Homo sapiens: one gene and its partners. The protein of the gene in region 1 purifies or fractionates together with the protein of each later gene. This does not show direct contact. Each region holds a gene or a part of one and is shown on either strand. Other genes may lie near its edges.

Region 1 (2,217 bases):
TCCCAGGGATAGCCTAAACCGAAATCCTTCTTCCTCAACACCAATGAACTATTCCCTTCAGCCTTAAAATTAATAACCTTAATATCTATCTGGTATTTGTTTTTAACAGTGAGCAACCTACAGTGTATACATCTCCTTGAGAACAGTGGAAGATCAAAGAACTTTTCTTATAACCTGCAATCAGCTACTCAGCCAAAAAACAAAACAAAACCTTGACTGCCTATGGAGGAAGACTGTGTTCGGGGGAGCTGGCATAGCTAGTGCAGAGTTCAGATTTTCTGCTGATAATCTTTTACACCTTGGGAAAACTTTAATATCCGTACCTGAAGGCTGATTCACCTAAAAATGTGTTAACTGAAAGAAAATGTCAGAATGTTTCCTTTCTGCTCTTACACAGCATTGTTTTGTCAATCAACACAGCCTGCACTGAAAGGACCTGCATAGACTATGTCTGTGCAAAGTGCCTGAGTGTCTGCTTTCACCTCAGTCTGTACAGTTGGAAATGAGAATTCATAATTAACAGCAAAATCTAAGGAAAACTACGGCTGCTGGGTTGGGATTTCTGCCAGCTAGCTGGTACTGGCTTCTTGTTTCAAGAGATGAACCTAAATGAGATAGGAAGCCTGTCCCATAGCAGCCTTCCTCTCACTACTTTCCTGGCATCTAATGCAACAAACTTATCACACACACACACACACACACACACACACACACACACACATATCACGTCCCACTATTACTTCAAAATTAATCAGGTTTAAATTTTAGATCAGAATCATTGCCCACTGTTTTCATTTAGAAATTGTCCAAAAGACCATAGATACATTCTGGTGATTCCTTACATTTTACAGTTCCTACGTTAGCCTCTCAAGGCCACAAGTTGCCGCCACGTCTTCACTGAATGGCTTTCTCAGTGCTGAATACCAACAGCCGTATTACAGTATCAAGGATTCTGTCAGGTAGGGTTTACAGACCAGACTGTTCATGCAGCAAGGTGCTAACTCAGGCGTCAACGTTCTACTTGTATTTTCTGACCAACTTGCAGAAGTGAGCAATCTTCTTAAAATGCCATTTCTGTTGGCAGGGAAGAATGAAACGGCACACATCCTAGCATTCTAAGAACACCTGGTTTAAATAAAATCCAGTGATGATGGGCTCTTTCACATTGTTTAAGGGGAAAGCTGCTGTGAGAATATTGACAGTAGGCATAAACAGTGATATATTTTACTCACAGGTATTTTGGGGGTTGCTTTCATTTTCTTCAGATCAGTGCCACTTCTGTGCTAACGGTAAGAGATAGACAGATAGGCAATGAAGTGTTCACTTAATTACCTTGGTTTTTAGTTTACTAATTATTACATTCATCGTTTTTGTGATCACAAAAACACAAAGAAGGAGGTCTGCCTGGATGGAATTACAAAGATTTAGCCAGTTTCTTGGTATATAACAGAAGGTACCACAGTATCACTCTCTATTTTGTAAATATTTAGCTCCTATGAAATGCACAATGCACAACCGCCTATGACCATGTATCGTGTGCTAGTCCGGGAAGCCAGCCTACACATCAATAGGAACGCCCAAACATTATTTTCATATATCAGTGCAAAGAAAGAAGGTTCGTAAACTTCTTTAAAAGTTCAGCTTTAATGACAAAGATCTATTACATCAGTCTTTTTCTTCAAATAAGATAGATGTGAATAAACAACTTCAAACAGGAGGTACTATGGCCTCTTCAATACACTGTAGCCAGTGCACTGGGCCCTTGGGGATGCCCAGTGATATACACGTTGAAGCAGTAATGTAAGTCTGTGAGCCACTGTTCCTGAACACTTCCACTCTTCAATGTCTGGAGAGAAAAACAAGAGTAATCTGAGAACTGCACCCAAATCACTATGCTACCTGACAGTATTTTTCACACCCAAACACAATTTCCCAGAGCTTTGGCAACTGTATCCCCATCTGTAAATTACCATAGGAAGTCTTCCAGGAAACAGGGAACTATTAATTGGGCATTACCACAGGCAGTGAAAATTCCTAGTTATATCCTCAAATGCTAATGGTTTCTTGTTAAGTCTGTTCCCTCCTGCACATGCTAGAGACTAATGAAATTTCACCACCAACCATCCCTTCACCCTTGCCTCTCCCTCTTGCCATTCTAGTGTCTCATGATCTTTACCCCAGTGCCAACTGAGAATAACTCTACAGGGCCAACCAACA
Region 2 (3,500 bases), on another chromosome or scaffold:
TAAGGATGACATGATCTAATTTCCATATTTTAAAAGATCATTCTGGCTGCTGTACAGCAAATGGGCCAGAGGAGAAAAAGGAGGGAGGAAGGGAGGCAGCTGAGAGTCTGACCAGTCAGTGAGCTCAAGTGATGACAGTGGCTGAAGCAGGGCTCTGCCCTGCATGGAGAAGAGACGACTGGGGTGCGGGAGGCTGGAGAAGAGACGACTGGGGTGCGGGAGGCTGGAGAAGAATGACAACTGGGGTGCGGGAGGCTGGAGAAGAATGACGACTGGGGTGCGGGAGGCTGGAGAAGAATGACGACTGGGGTGCGGGAGGCTGGAGAAGAATGACGACTGGGGTGCGGGAGGCTGGAGAAGAATGACGACTGGGGCTGCGGGAGGCTGGAGAAAAACGACGACTGGGCTGCGGGAGGCAAGAGGGCGGAGGAATCAAGCATGACTGTCAGGTTTCTGGCTTGTGTAAGTGGCAGACGGTGCCATGTATGAAAAATGGGGAAAACCTGGGAAAAATATATTTGGGGGAATCAAGAGTTTTATAATAGAAATGATACCCTTGAAATGCTTACTCAAGTGGAAATATCAAGTAGGCTATTGAATTTACAAATCTAGAGCTCAGAGGACAGAACTGGACTCAATATAGAAAAATGACAGTTCCCAGACTTTAGCTAATTCAAAGTGTGGCAAGGGAATGAATGAGATCACTGCAGCAAAGTGCAAAAAAGGGGCCTGAGGTTGAGCCTCAAGGAGCCCTAATAATCAAAAGTCTATAGAAAGAAGAGACAGCAACAAATTTAGGAGTGGCAAGTGAGGTGAAAAGAAGAGCAGAAGAGACAATAGCACTGTGGAGGCCAAGACAGAAGTATTTCAAGGAGAGAGTAGTCAATTACATCCAGCACTGCTGAGGAGTTAAGTAATGTGAGAACAAAACAAGCGGCCCACTGATTTGGCACTTAGAGATCGCTAAAGACCTCAACAAGAACCATTTAAGTGTAGAGGTATCAGCAGAGGCTCTACTGGAGTCAAGAATAAATGGAAAGGGAAAAAGCGTGTAGCCTAGTTGCAATGTCTATGAAAGATGCTAAGCATGGCAGCTTAAATGATAGAAAGTTGACACTTATGTCCAATCCTAATTTATCATCATAAGGTCACAACAATTTTTGATTTGGGATCAAAATCACTTACTGATCCAAAGCATAAGTTTCTTCCAGTCTCCTAAGAAGGAAGTTTTCCCCTAATTTCTAATCTCTTTTCATAGCTCAGATTTTTTTCCGCTTTTCTCCAAAATACCTTTCCTTTAGACCACCCCATCTTCTCTAGCATCCGCTGGCCAAACTTGGAATCGTCATTACTCCAGGCAGTGTTCTGAGGATCCACAGCCCACTTCTGCTTCCGCCGACCTGTAAATGAAAAAGCATTATCATCAGCAATGGAGATGATACCCGGAAAATACCACACAAACATACACATGCACAACTTTGTGTATTTTATGTATGTATGTAAAATATGACATACATTACAATACAGAAATTAATTCAACACTCAACAGAATGTTAGACTGGATCATTTATCCTGATTTCCCTAATAAATGTATATTCTAGACATATAAGTTGACCTCTTAAGATTAAAACTGAAATGTTCCCTCATAATGTGGCAAAGCAAATGCTCAATATACTAGAGCTGGGCCTTCCATACTCCGCCATCAGCACAACTGAAAGCACCTGTGGACACCAGCATCCTCATCACCATCAGCAGTAGTAGCAGCAGCATTACAGCTTCCATTGCCATGCGTTACTACATACAAAAGAACATGCAATACCAAGGATGCGCTTAAAATAGTAAATGCCAATTATTCAACCTGAGACCTGCTCCAAACGCTGTACATAATATTCAGTTTTCACAGTACCCCAACGAGTGTGGATAGTACCATTGTCACTGGCAGATATGAAAATCTGAGGCTTAGAGAAAGAAATTTGCCGAACATCCCCAAGCAAAAACCAGATCCTTTAAACCAACCTTGGTCCTACTAACTTCAAAGCTTATATTCTTAATTCACAACATACAATAGTCATTATGCTCTTGGGGAGAGTCAACTGTACCCTCCACACATGTGACCTACAGATAATAACAATCCCATCCCTCTCATTGAGATGCCCTGAAGCCCTCTGACCCCTCTTTGAACTTCTAGAATAACTTATCTGTTTCTTAACATCCACTGTATTAGGGCTATTTATATCCGCCTTTCCGGTTTCCCATTAGACCATCATCTCCTTAGGGCTCATATTCATGTCTTTTTTCTGAGGCTTCATTGCAAGAAGTAAAAAAATCACTGTGCCCACAGCAGGCACTCAATAAATATGTGAATGGAATAAACGATAAAAATGAAGAATGGAAAGAGGAAGAAAGGAGGAAAGAAGAGGGAGAGGAAAAAAGGAAGGAAGGAGTATAACTGAATTAAGGGAACTGCTTTGAATCTCATCAAAGCAACTTTTTTTAATGCATATAAATTACTGATCATTATGAACTCCAGTTTATCACTGTCGTTTTAAGGAAAATTATGGCAAAAATAAAGAACTCCAAAGGTTCAAAGCACAAGAATGTCAAACTGAAAAGTAGACTGTGGCGAAATGAGAAATTTGGAGGTGTCATTATCATTTATCTGCCACATCAATATAAGCACATTGTCTCACCATCAACACAACCCCTCCTACCTTGCCCATCTCATCACATAATTAAAAAATAACATGACCCCCTGTCAAAGGGGCTCACTGTGGCACACATAAAATCAATAGAGGCCCATAACTATGCACACTCCAGCAAAAATAGGAAATCCTTTACAAATACACAGGCAGAAAAAAAGGCCCTTAACAAAGCAAAACAAGTTGGGCTCGAATTTGTAGTGTTTTGCAGAAAAAAAAAGGTGACCCAAAAATGTTCCATCTAAATTACCACTTTACTTATCTTGGCAAATACTCAGCATAACACTGCGTCTGCTAATGAACAACACACCAGAGAGAAGCCTGTTAGCCAGTATTCTATATGCAAGCTGGCATCAGTGTGTCAGAGTTCATGTGTCTATGCAGTGCTTGCCAGGGGTCTTTGACTAGGGCTTGTACGAAGGAGACAGTTTTGAGAATAAGCTCACGCTCTGCAGTTAAGAACTGCACACGCTTCACATTACCTACTTATATAAAACAAACTATAATGCCTACACAAGAGATTAGCTATTCAAGGTCAATTCCTCTCCCCTGGGAAAATGGCAGTTAGCTTCAATCAATGGGATCACACCAGTGTTTCCAAACAAGGATGTTGGGGGGGCGGGGGGTGGCAGTTTCCCATTGAAAATGAGTAACACTGGGTTAAACTAAATTTCATATGGAAGAATCTCCCGGAAACTTTACTATGCAAATGTGCAGATCCTCTTAGAGGAGGCCAGAGCAGGCCTGCCATGCTTCCCAGACTTCACTTGACCAGAACCCTGCTTCCCTGGAACATTTCCC
Region 3 (3,500 bases), on another chromosome or scaffold:
GAAGGAATCCATTAGGGACAGAGCTTCACTCTCTCCCTGCTGCTGCCAGCTCTTGAGCCGCAGCTTCAGATTTTGATCTTGGGCCATAACCTCGTAAGTCTGCTGAGAGCCTGCTATGGGCTACCCTTCTCCCTAGGCTCTTGGGGCCTTAAACAGCCACAATGGGGCTTGTCCTATGGAACAAGCATTGACTGTATCTCTTGGCCTGCCCTTGGGTGACCTCTTTGACTCCTGATTGTGGGCCCTCCATTAGGATTCCATCTGTGATGTTCCGTATCCATTCTAACCTGGATGCAGAGGTGGGTGGACATTAACCCTGTGATGATATGCCATTCCCCACCCATGGTAGGCGATCCACAGAGCCTGTGGCTCCCCCAGAGCAGCTCTCAGAGGCTGCACTAAAGGCCATGGAAGAGGCAGTGGCCCAAGTACTCGAGCAAGACCAGAGGCACCTGCTGGAATCCAAGCAAGAGAAGATGCAGCAACTGCGGGAGAAGCTGTGCCAAGAGGAGGAAGAGGAGATCCTCCGGCTTCACCAGCAGAAAGAGCAATCTCTCAGGTCCTGCCCTTCCCCTTAGGCATGCTTCCTGGGGCCTTTCAGGGATGTGAGGAGCCAGGGACACCCTCTTAGCCTGGGGACCACTGGGATGCCCATGGTTCTACTAAGACCAACTAAAGTTGGGAAACTTGACCCAACAATTTCTGCTTATATCTCATTGGTTACACCTAGTTGCAGAGAACACTCGGAAATGTAGTCCTTTAGCTGACCTCTTTACCCCGTAGAATAAAAGCAGGGTTCTGTTGGTAAGGAAGAAAGGGAGAATGGATATTGAGCTGTTAATGAGCCATCTGTCACAGTCCCAGGTTGGGAAAGGTACTACAAAAAGGTGTTAACATATTTCATTTACTTGGCAATTTAACTAAAGGCTAAGTCTTGTCCTCTTGTACAGAACATCCAAGAGTGGTAGAAAATTATTATTTTTAGATGATACCTAGCAAAGTATATATAAAACATTTATGCTTAATTTAGAGAATATAAAACAGAAAACCAACATACAAGTACTGGGAAGGTTGGAGCAATCTCTCATGAGTCCAGCGCAGGAAGCACTGACATAGGGTCTGTCCTTATATCACATCCTTGTGGGTCCTCCACCAGGGAGCATCCCAAAGAACAGACACCTCCAACCCCCTAGCATCCTCCAACCCCCTAGCATCCTCCTCTTCCAGCCAACTGAGAATTGGGGCAGGGGCCCACCCAAGCAGGATGTGACTCACCTTAAGGTGCAGCACCTTGGAGGAAATCCTGGCGCTGTGTCCCTGCCAGCCCACCAGTCTCCTCCCCTCTTGCTGGCCACCCTGAGCTTGGCTGACTGTGCTTTCCATCTCTCTCCCGAGGCCCCTGACTCCAGAGGCCCTCTTAGGTTGTGGGGAAGACTGGCATGCTAGAAGTGTCTTGATTCATGGCCTGGAACATAGCAGTTGCTGAACAAATGGTAGCAATTACTTTTCAATGGAAATCAATGCATATTCAGGCATTCTTGACTAAGTGATTTCTCTGTGGACACTGCCTTCAAGGCCTGGCTTTCTTCAAACTAGTTCATCACCAGAACCTGTTTCTGTTTATGCCCAAGCCTTTCTGAGGAATGGGCTCTCCTTCCGTCTGCTGGGAACTTCCATGTGGTAGAAATTTCTGGAAGCCACAGCTGATCTTGTAACAAATATTTCTGGAATGAGAAGGCAGGCAGGCTGGCCCTTAGCTTCTTTCACTGTAAAATGAAGGGATTGGACTTAAAACTTCTAAAGTCCCTGCCAGCTCTAACACTGTGTTGCTGTGTGTAAAATTTAGCCATAGGACAAAGAGAAAAGGTTTCTGGGGAATCTAGAAGGAAGGATTTTTACTTAATTCAAATTTTCTCTCTTTTTTTTTTTTTTGAGACAGAGTCTTGCTCTGTCGCCCAGGCTGGAGTACAGTGGCTTACTCGGCTCACTGCAAGCTCCGCCTCCCAGGTTCACGCCATTCTCCTGCCTCAGCCTCCCAAGTAGCTGGGACTACAGGCGCCTGCCACCATGCCTGGCTAATTTTTTTTTTTTTATTTTTAGTAGAGACGGGGTTTCACTGGGTTAGCCAGGATGGTCTCGATCTCCTGACCTGATGATCCGCCTGCCTCGGCCTCCCAAAGTGCTGGGATTACAGGCGTGAGCCACTGTGCCCGGCCAAATTTTCTCTCTTAATGGAAAAAAGTAATGATGTTAGTATCTTGAAATAGGAAAGAATCCTAAGTCTTTTTTTGGCTTTAGGATTTGCTACAGAAGCTTTTCAAAGGAATTGTCTTCCGAATCACGTTTTTCCTAGGTTTGAATTCCCTGAGCGCACAGCACACATCCCCTGGTCGTGTGGGGCTGTGTGAGGAGTTACCCAAAAAGGATGTGGTTTGTGTAAGCAGGGGGATGTCTGCTTAGGATGAAATGGCCACTGTTGTTGGTGTGTAAATAAGATAACCTTTCATAGATATCACGGCTTGCTTATAGTTTGGGGCTGGATGATGCTGTTCAAATTCAATTAATTTATTAAGCACCTACTTTATGTCAGCTACTATGTGTGGTACCTGGGATATAACAGATTTTAAGACAAGATTCTTTCTCTTGAGAAGCTCCCAGACTTGCAAGGAAAACAGAGATACAGAAGATGAATTATGATGCCATGTGACGCATGGTGCAGAGTAGCATGGGATAAGAAAGGTCCACATGTAAAGTGATGGGAACAGAAAGATGAATTGATGAGCTTGTAGGGAGTTGGAAAGACTTCCCAGAGAGGGAGCTGAGTGTTGAGGAATGAATATGGGTTTGCCAGATAGAAAAGGGAATTCTTGGCAGAGAACCTAGGAAGGAAGAGTGTGGTAGAATGGAGGGATGGTGACTCAGCTGATGTGGCTAGAACAGAGTCTGTCGGAGTGAAAGAATGTGGAATCTGGTTGGGTGGCTATAGCTATCCTTGAGTGAGTGCCATGCTGAGGTGAAGCTGTTGACAGAGGGGAGCCTTTGGAAGAAGTGCTGTACTACCAAAACCCAGAAGCCAGTAGTTTGCTTTTTTTTTTTTTTTTTTTTTGGAGATAGAGTCTTGCTCTGTTGCCCAGGTTGGAGTGCTGTGGTGTGATCTCAGCTCACTGCAACCTCTGCCTCCCAGGTTCCAGCAATTCTCCTGTCTCAGCCTCCCAAGTAGCTGGGATTACAGGTGTGCGCCACCATGCCCGGCTAATTTTTGTATTTTTAGTAGAGACGGGGTTTCGCCATTATGGCCAGGCTGGTCTCGAACTCCTGACCTCAAGTGATCCACCTACCTCGGCCTCCCAAAGTGCTGGGATTACGGGTGTGAGCCACCACGCCCGGCCATTAGTTTGCTTCTTGAAGCAAAGGGGAGTTCATGGTCCCTTCGTAATCCTGGGAGGTATTAGGGAGGCAGCAGTGGACCTAGAGGCTAAGGTTAGACTCATCTTTAAGAT

What was found.
Region 2: the proteins of INVS (region 1) and PINX1 purify together in Homo sapiens (co-immunoprecipitation; one large-scale study listed by IntAct). This does not show direct contact.
Region 3: the proteins of INVS (region 1) and CEP164 purify together in Homo sapiens (affinity purification with western blotting, with the first as the bait; one study listed by BioGRID). This does not show direct contact.

Annotation. Positions count from the first base shown.
Region 1 is NC_000009.12:100,300,459-100,302,675, forward strand, and holds the end of INVS (inversin), read left to right. Parts: intron 1-109; coding exon 110-216; 3' UTR 217-1,717; downstream 1,718-2,217. Other genes in the region: TEX10 (testis-expressed protein 10), read right to left, coding at 1,733-1,846. UniProt on the Homo sapiens protein: Required for normal renal development and establishment of left-right axis. Probably acts as a molecular switch between different Wnt signaling pathways.
Region 2 is NC_000008.11:10,833,376-10,836,875, forward strand, and holds part of PINX1 (PIN2/TERF1-interacting telomerase inhibitor 1), read right to left. Parts: intron 1,401-3,500; coding exon 1,291-1,400; intron 1-1,290. UniProt on the Homo sapiens protein: Microtubule-binding protein essential for faithful chromosome segregation. Mediates TRF1 and TERT accumulation in nucleolus and enhances TRF1 binding to telomeres. Inhibits telomerase activity. May inhibit cell proliferation and act as tumor suppressor.
Region 3 is NC_000011.10:117,386,854-117,390,353, forward strand, and holds part of CEP164 (centrosomal protein of 164 kDa), read left to right. Parts: intron 1-349; coding exon 350-559; intron 560-3,500. UniProt on the Homo sapiens protein: Plays a role in microtubule organization and/or maintenance for the formation of primary cilia (PC), a microtubule-based structure that protrudes from the surface of epithelial cells. Plays a critical role in G2/M checkpoint and nuclear divisions.